Linked DNA regions of Homo sapiens. The protein of the gene in region 1 interacts with the protein of each later gene in a pairwise test. Each region holds a gene or a part of one and is shown in the gene's direction. Other genes may lie near its edges. The genes, in order: ITPRIP and PGRMC2.

Region 1 (2,963 bases):
AGCGAAGCCTTTACCGTAAGACACTGGACTCCTTCTATGAGATGCTCAAGAATGCCCCAGCGCTCATTAGCGAGTATTCCCTACATGTCCCCTCAGACCAGCCTACCCCAAAAAGCTGACGTCTTTTACAGAATGTGGGATCCTCGAGCTAAGATGAGGGCATCCCTCACGTTCACACCCCTGGTGGCATCTGCCAGCCCTGTTCTGGGGACAAGGCGGGCTTTCGTGGGAGCCGTGCTCAGCCTGCCAGGAAGCCAAGCCCTACAGTGCAGAGGAAACAGAATTTCAACGGGAAGCTGGTTTGCTTCATACCATTGGGATCTGCTGGTAAAGCTGTTATTTGGGTTTAGGGACTGATCCCTTGCAGTTTACTTCTGGATCACCATGAATGGCCAAGATGGTGGCAGAACACGCTGTGGACCCTGAGTTAGAGACAATGCAAATGTTGGATTGGGTGTAATTCTTTTTGAATCCCAGATCCAGTCTGTACTTGAATATGAGCAGAGGATCTACAAGAATGCTGACAGGGAACCGTGTTAAGACCCAGCACCCCTATTCCCAGGAGCTTCTGGCCTGACCATCTGCAGCCAAAGCACTAACAGGGACAGATATGGGAATGTCCACCTTTGATCCGCATCCTGCACAATAGTGGTCCCACCATGGCTGCCACTTTTTTATACTATTTGGAGAAAAGACCTTGTATAAATTCGAGGCCCAAATGACTAACGTCTCTGTCACACGGAAATGGGTACTTGGTGGCATAGAGAAACACAATTAGCCACTTTTTCAGCTACACTTCTCACTCAGCTGCACCCTACACTTCTCACTCAGGTGCACCCCCTTCTGCTGTCCTTTCCCCAACGTACTGGGTCCCGAGCGTGGTGGGTATTTGCCACACTGGGTGCCAGCTCAGCAGCCCCCCACCTCTCTTTATTCTCTCCAAAGCTGGTCTTTCTGACTATCATTGTGGTAGGGGGAGGACAGATGCTAAAGGTGGAAGCTGACCTGGAGAAAGAGACACACGGGGTGACTGTGGCAAAGGACAGCTGGAAAAGAAACTCTATCACTTCTTCATTGGCAACCACAAGGCACCTGAGGCCATGGCACTCCCAGAGGCTGTGCGCAGAGCCAAGCCTCTCAACCTCTTCTGGCCCTGCGTCCTGCAGCGAAGTCTCTGCTGTAAGACAGTAGACTCCTTCGATGAGGTGCTCAAAAATGCTACCCGGGGTGGTGGTGTCTGGCTTGCAGTCTGGCCCAGTTCAGAGAAAGTTGCAGAGATCAGGGGCCAAGGATGTCATAGCCCCAGGTTGTCCTCAGGGTCCCAATCCTAGGGCAGGGTGTGCATGGAAGCAAGAACTATGGAAACCTAGCTCCAGTCTGCAGGCTCTGAGCCCCTAGTTCCTCACTCCAGCGGGGCTCCCTCACTGCACAGAACCCACCCCTTCTGTGTGGGCACTGCTGACCACACAGATGACCCAGACCCAAAGAGCCTGGCAGAAGCTCTGTGGTTGGAGCTGGGCTCCGTCTCCAGGTCTGGTTCAGGGGGATCAGGAAGGCTCTTTTCCACCTGTGGCTTCACTGGCCCTTTGAGATTTCCTATCTCACCGTTACTTCAGTTACCCTTGCAGGGGGCCAGGGAGTCAAGAATATACCGTGTTCCTCCAGGGTTTAAGCCGGCCATGCCTTCCCGAGAGCATAACCAACTTGACAGGGGTGCCCAGTTACCCCACAAACTGAAGGAAGGAGATCCTTCCCCCATCCCCAGGAGTGCTCTCAACCAGCCTCAGAAAGCTTGAGAAGATGGACCCTTTGCCCACCAGGGTTAATTCCTGGTGGGGCAGCTCGGCTGTGATCAGGGCAACCAAACCTATAGGAAGCCTTCCAGTGTGAGCTGGAATTAGACTGAACATGTGCTTGGGCCTGCCTCTCCCTAGACGCAGTTGCGGGGCACTCCAGGGAATGAACCAGCTCAAGTGTGTCCCTAACAGCAGCCTGGAGCTACCCCCAATCCCTCACAGCCTGACCCTCCTCATTCCATCAGATGCATTTGTAGAATCGGGGCAAATTTCCTTATTTATTTATGGCCCATGCCTTTCCCCCTCTTCATCCTGATCCCGTTTTGCTTTGAAGAGACCCCAGTAACCAAAAAACAGCCTCCAGAAGCCAAAACCATGCCTGGATCTCCCATAGCTTCTCCTTTGCTTCCAGGAGAAAGTTCACTGAAAAAAAAATATCTTCTGGCTTCTTGTGTGTACAGAGACAACAGAACTCGGTGGGGAAACGGGAATCTTTTCTGCACCAAAGCTGCTTCTAAAGCAGAAAGCAGTGGGGCTCTTGGTGTTTCATGCTGCCTTATTTATATTAAAGGAAGAATTAAATCTTGCAAGGAGTAGAAATGGTCACTGTTTGTTTTTAACTTCAGGAAATCTGTGAGGCTCCCAGGGCAGAGTTGGGGACAGGGGGGTGGATTTCCTATTGACAAAGCAGAAGCTTTCACTCCCTTTTTATTCTTACACTTTCAGGAGACTTTAAAAAATAACAAAACAGAACATTTCTACCCTGTCTTTGAGGCAACTTGTGTGCTGCCCGCAGGGCTCCAGAAAGGGCCTTTGAAAGCTGGCTGTAGGGTGGATTCCAGCCTAAGACCTTATTTCACAGAGCTAATGTCAGCGAGAAATATAGGAGCTGGAACTAACAGGAAGCTTTTGGGTTTTAAAGAAAGAGATTGTATTTTAAATAGAGGATTTTGAGTCCTCTAGGGGACTTTGGCCTTTCCACTAAGGACAACCCTGCCCTCTTTCCCCAGAGTCTCTTTCCCAAGGATGCTTGACTTTCCCCAGCAACTGCTCACTTGCTTTGCAAAATAACAAGGGTGAAATGAATAGAGTTGGCCCCTAGGCCAAGAGGCTGGTTATGTTGGGGAAGGGCCTTATATCCTCAAAAGCTCTAGCCCCTCTGCATGC
Region 2 (3,830 bases), on another chromosome or scaffold:
AACCTCCGTCTCCTGGATTCAAGCAATTCTCCTGCCTCAGACTCCTGAGTAGCTGGGATTACAGGCGTGCGCCACCACAGCCGGCTAATTTTTGTAGTTTTAGTAGAGATGAGGTTTCACCATGTTGGCCAGGCTGGTCTCAAACTGCTGACCTCAACACTGCTGCCACAGAGTTGGGATTACAGGCATGAGCCACCGCACCTGGCCTGGTTAATACCCTTTTGAATGTCAGTTGAGATGATAGAAAAAGTTTGAAGGTTACGAATATTGGCCAGTGGTAAATTGTGTTCCATATTCTTATATAGAAGACACATTTGAAAGTATAAAATGGTAGCCTATGTTAATAAGACTGATTAAATAAATTACAGGTACACATCCATTCAGTGGGATAATATATAACCATTCAATGATAAATAATTGTTGATAGTCATGTGATACGATGTAGCAATATGGAAAATGCAATAAGAATAAGAAAAGCAGAATACAAATGTACTTTACTGGAACTGTTAGCTTTACTTTCATGTTACTGTATCAATACCTATGAATGCTACTCTTAAAATTATTGCTAATGCTACTTCTAGTTCCATGCAGTAAACTTTTCAGAGAATGAATTTCACATCTGGTTAACTTTATAGTACAGTGCTGTTAGCAACTCAAATTAATACTCATAAATGCTTAGATATCTATTTAAGTGAAACCTCGATTTCTACTCTCAGAAGGTACAGAGACTTTTTGACACATAACTTTCAGTTTCCTAAATACTTTTATATATGAATATAATCATTTCGCTCATTTAAAAATCAAGGAATTTCTAGTTTTTTCTGCTTGTTTACTTATCAGAACATACTTTGTTCTTTTATTTATAAGCCCTGTTTTTCACCACTCTGTTGTTGTTGTTCATAATAGTGTCTTTGCCTACCATAAGTGAATCTGTTTACAGAATCTTGAGTTTCTTTTTATTCGGAACTACAGCTAAGTCATTTGGAAGAAAATTATTACGTTCCTACTTTATGCCAGGCACAGTGCTAGGCATTGAGGATACAAATCCTCAATTGATGAACAAATTGCTGTTCTCAAGGACAAACCTTGGGAATGGTTTTTGTCAACACATCAGTCATGCCATTTCTCCTCAGAGAGAATGGTACCCAATTCCTTGGATAAAATGCTAATTATTGCTTAATGTGTCAGTCCAGAAGAATTATTCCTTATAGCTACTTCCTCTGTTTTCCAAAAGTCATGACAAGTAAGAGCTATTATTTTCCTTAATGACTTTTCCTAGTTTATATAGATCATTGTATATATATTATGGTAGTCAGATGATTTATTTTGAATATGGGTCTTTTTTTATTAAACCACTCAGCAAAGATTTATTAAATGCGTGTTGAGCACTGAACTAGTCACTGGGACCACAAAGATGATACAGTCTCTTTTCTCATAGAATTACAACCTTCATAAGGATAGCAGAAAGAAAAATGTTACAGATTCAAGTTCAGCTGAGTCTTTACATAATACATGATGTTCTGTTGATTATTTTTATTTTTTTGATGCCACTATTAACAGCAACCAGTAAACATTATTTCCCCTCAAGCAGACTGGCTTCTAAACCTAACCACTTAAGTTTCTTCTTCTCCCTCATTACCTCACAGTCTTCATTTTGAATATTAAGTTTGGGGATATCTGAAGTAATTGAAATTGAGGGTTTTAAGATCTAAGTGAAAAGCTTTACTTGGGTCAAAAGGCAGATTTCCAACAAATTTCTTTTCTTATTCCATCTAGTATCTGTACATGTTTTGAAATTAAGGGTATATACAAATGTGAATTATGAGGGGTTTTTTTCTTTGTTGTGTTTTTTTTTTTTTTTTTTTACTTTTTCCTTTGAGACATTCTAAAATATTGTTAGGTGATCTAAATAATTTATTTTCTTTTTTCCAGCGGGTCCATATGGAATATTTGCTGGTAGGGATGCCTCCAGAGGACTGGCCACATTTTGCCTAGATAAAGATGCACTTAGAGATGAATATGATGATCTCTCAGATTTGAATGCAGTACAAATGGAGAGTGTTCGAGAATGGGAAATGCAGTTTAAAGGTATTTTTATTTTGTTGGATTCTTTGGAAAATTAAATATTTGTTCAAAGAAAATATATACTATTTTACATGCTTTAAGAGCCTAAGGATGTCATCCGTTTTCATTGCCATCATTATTTGATAATATTTTTAAAGATAGCTAAAGCTGGGTGAAGTGGCACATGCCTGTGGTCCTAGCTGCTGATGGGAATCCCTTGAGCTCAGGAGTTCAAGGACTAACCTGGGCAACATAGTGAGACTTGTCCAAAAAAAGAAATTGCAAAAAATAGCTAAATAAAAATATGATTGTTACATGTGATAATTATTTTGAAAATCAATATTTAAAAAAATGACTTGTTACAAATTCTAAGCCTCAAAAATTGTGATACTTACAGTCAGCTTCTTCATTAAGGTTTAGTTTTTTAAAAATACAGGCTTATATTTAAAACTGAGTTGATTACTGATTTCAATACTATAATTTATTCCAAAATGATTTTACAGATCTTAACACTCGAAATGTAGATAAAAAATATCTTTCCCCTTTCTTATGCCCTCATAACATCAGTTTTTACCACTTGTGTGATGCTGTCCCAGCTGTTTATCTGACCCCTGGGTCCCTTGGAACAGCTGTTCTGGTTTAGCTGGGTACTGAGATGGGTCCTGGACTTACTCATTTTTAAAAAAGATCTCCAAGTGATTCTGATGCAGTATCCAACTAAGAATCACTGGTACAGAACACCCTCTTGCAAAGAATTCCCAAGCCTTATAAGTTCCCTAATCCTGTTTTCTTTTGTTCAGGCTTTACATGTGTATAAAGACCAGCCATGGTGAAGCAATTTTAGAATATTTAGATAATATTCTAATAATCATATTTTATATGATTCTAAAACAGACAAATGCCTTTTCTCTGTATAATGGAATAGTGAAACAAATTTGATCACCACTGATTTTCTTTTGATGTATCTTTCAGAAAAATATGATTATGTAGGCAGACTCCTAAAACCAGGAGAAGAACCATCAGAATATACAGATGAAGAAGATACCAAGGATCACAATAAACAGGATTGAACTTTGTAAACAACCAAAGTCAGGGGCCTTCAGAACTGCAATTCTTACTCCCTTTCACAGACTGTCCGGAGTCTTTGGGTTTGATTCACCTGCTGCGAAAAACATTCAACAAATTGTGTACAAGATAAATTAATCTCACTATGAAGATTTGAATAACTAGACATTATTTATGCTGCCAAACTCATTTGTTGCAGTTGTTTGTAATGTCTAGTGGGGCTTCATCATCCTGAAAAGAAGGAGACAGGGATTTTTTTAAAGAGCAAGAAAGTCACAATATTACTTCTTTCCTTCCTTTTTTCCTTCTTTCCTTTCTTCTTTCTCTTTCTTTCTTTTTAAAATATATTGAAGACAACCAGATATGTATTTGCTACTCAAGTGTACAGATCTCCTCAAGAAACATCAAGGGACTCCTGTGTCACATACTGTGTTTTTATTTTAACATGGGTGAGGGAGGCGACCTGATCAGGGGAGGTGGGGGTACACATCAATTTGAGTTGTTCAGGCTACTGAAACATTAAAATGTGAATTCCCAAACTTTTCTTTTTGGCTTTGTCAGGGAAAAGAAAAATATCTTTATAAAGAAATCTTTGGAAATTAGGAGAAGGAATTTCAGGTGGGTTTAAGTCAGAGCTAGTTCCCCAACAGAAAGATCATTTGAAACCAGTTTTTATCCCTTCTCTTTCCTTCCCTTTCCCT

What was found.
Region 2: the proteins of ITPRIP (region 1) and PGRMC2 interact in binary tests that used the Homo sapiens proteins (3 or more experiments, as listed by UniProt).

Annotation. Positions count from the first base shown.
Region 1 is NC_000010.11:104,311,564-104,314,526, reverse strand, and holds part of ITPRIP (inositol 1,4,5-trisphosphate receptor-interacting protein precursor), read left to right. Parts: coding exon 1-119; 3' UTR 120-2,963. UniProt on the Homo sapiens protein: Enhances Ca(2+)-mediated inhibition of inositol 1,4,5-triphosphate receptor (ITPR) Ca(2+) release.
Region 2 is NC_000004.12:128,270,620-128,274,449, reverse strand, and holds part of PGRMC2 (membrane-associated progesterone receptor component 2), read left to right. Parts: intron 1-1,932; coding exon 1,933-2,088; intron 2,089-3,036; coding exon 3,037-3,134; 3' UTR 3,135-3,830. UniProt on the Homo sapiens protein: Required for the maintenance of uterine histoarchitecture and normal female reproductive lifespan. May serve as a universal non-classical progesterone receptor in the uterus.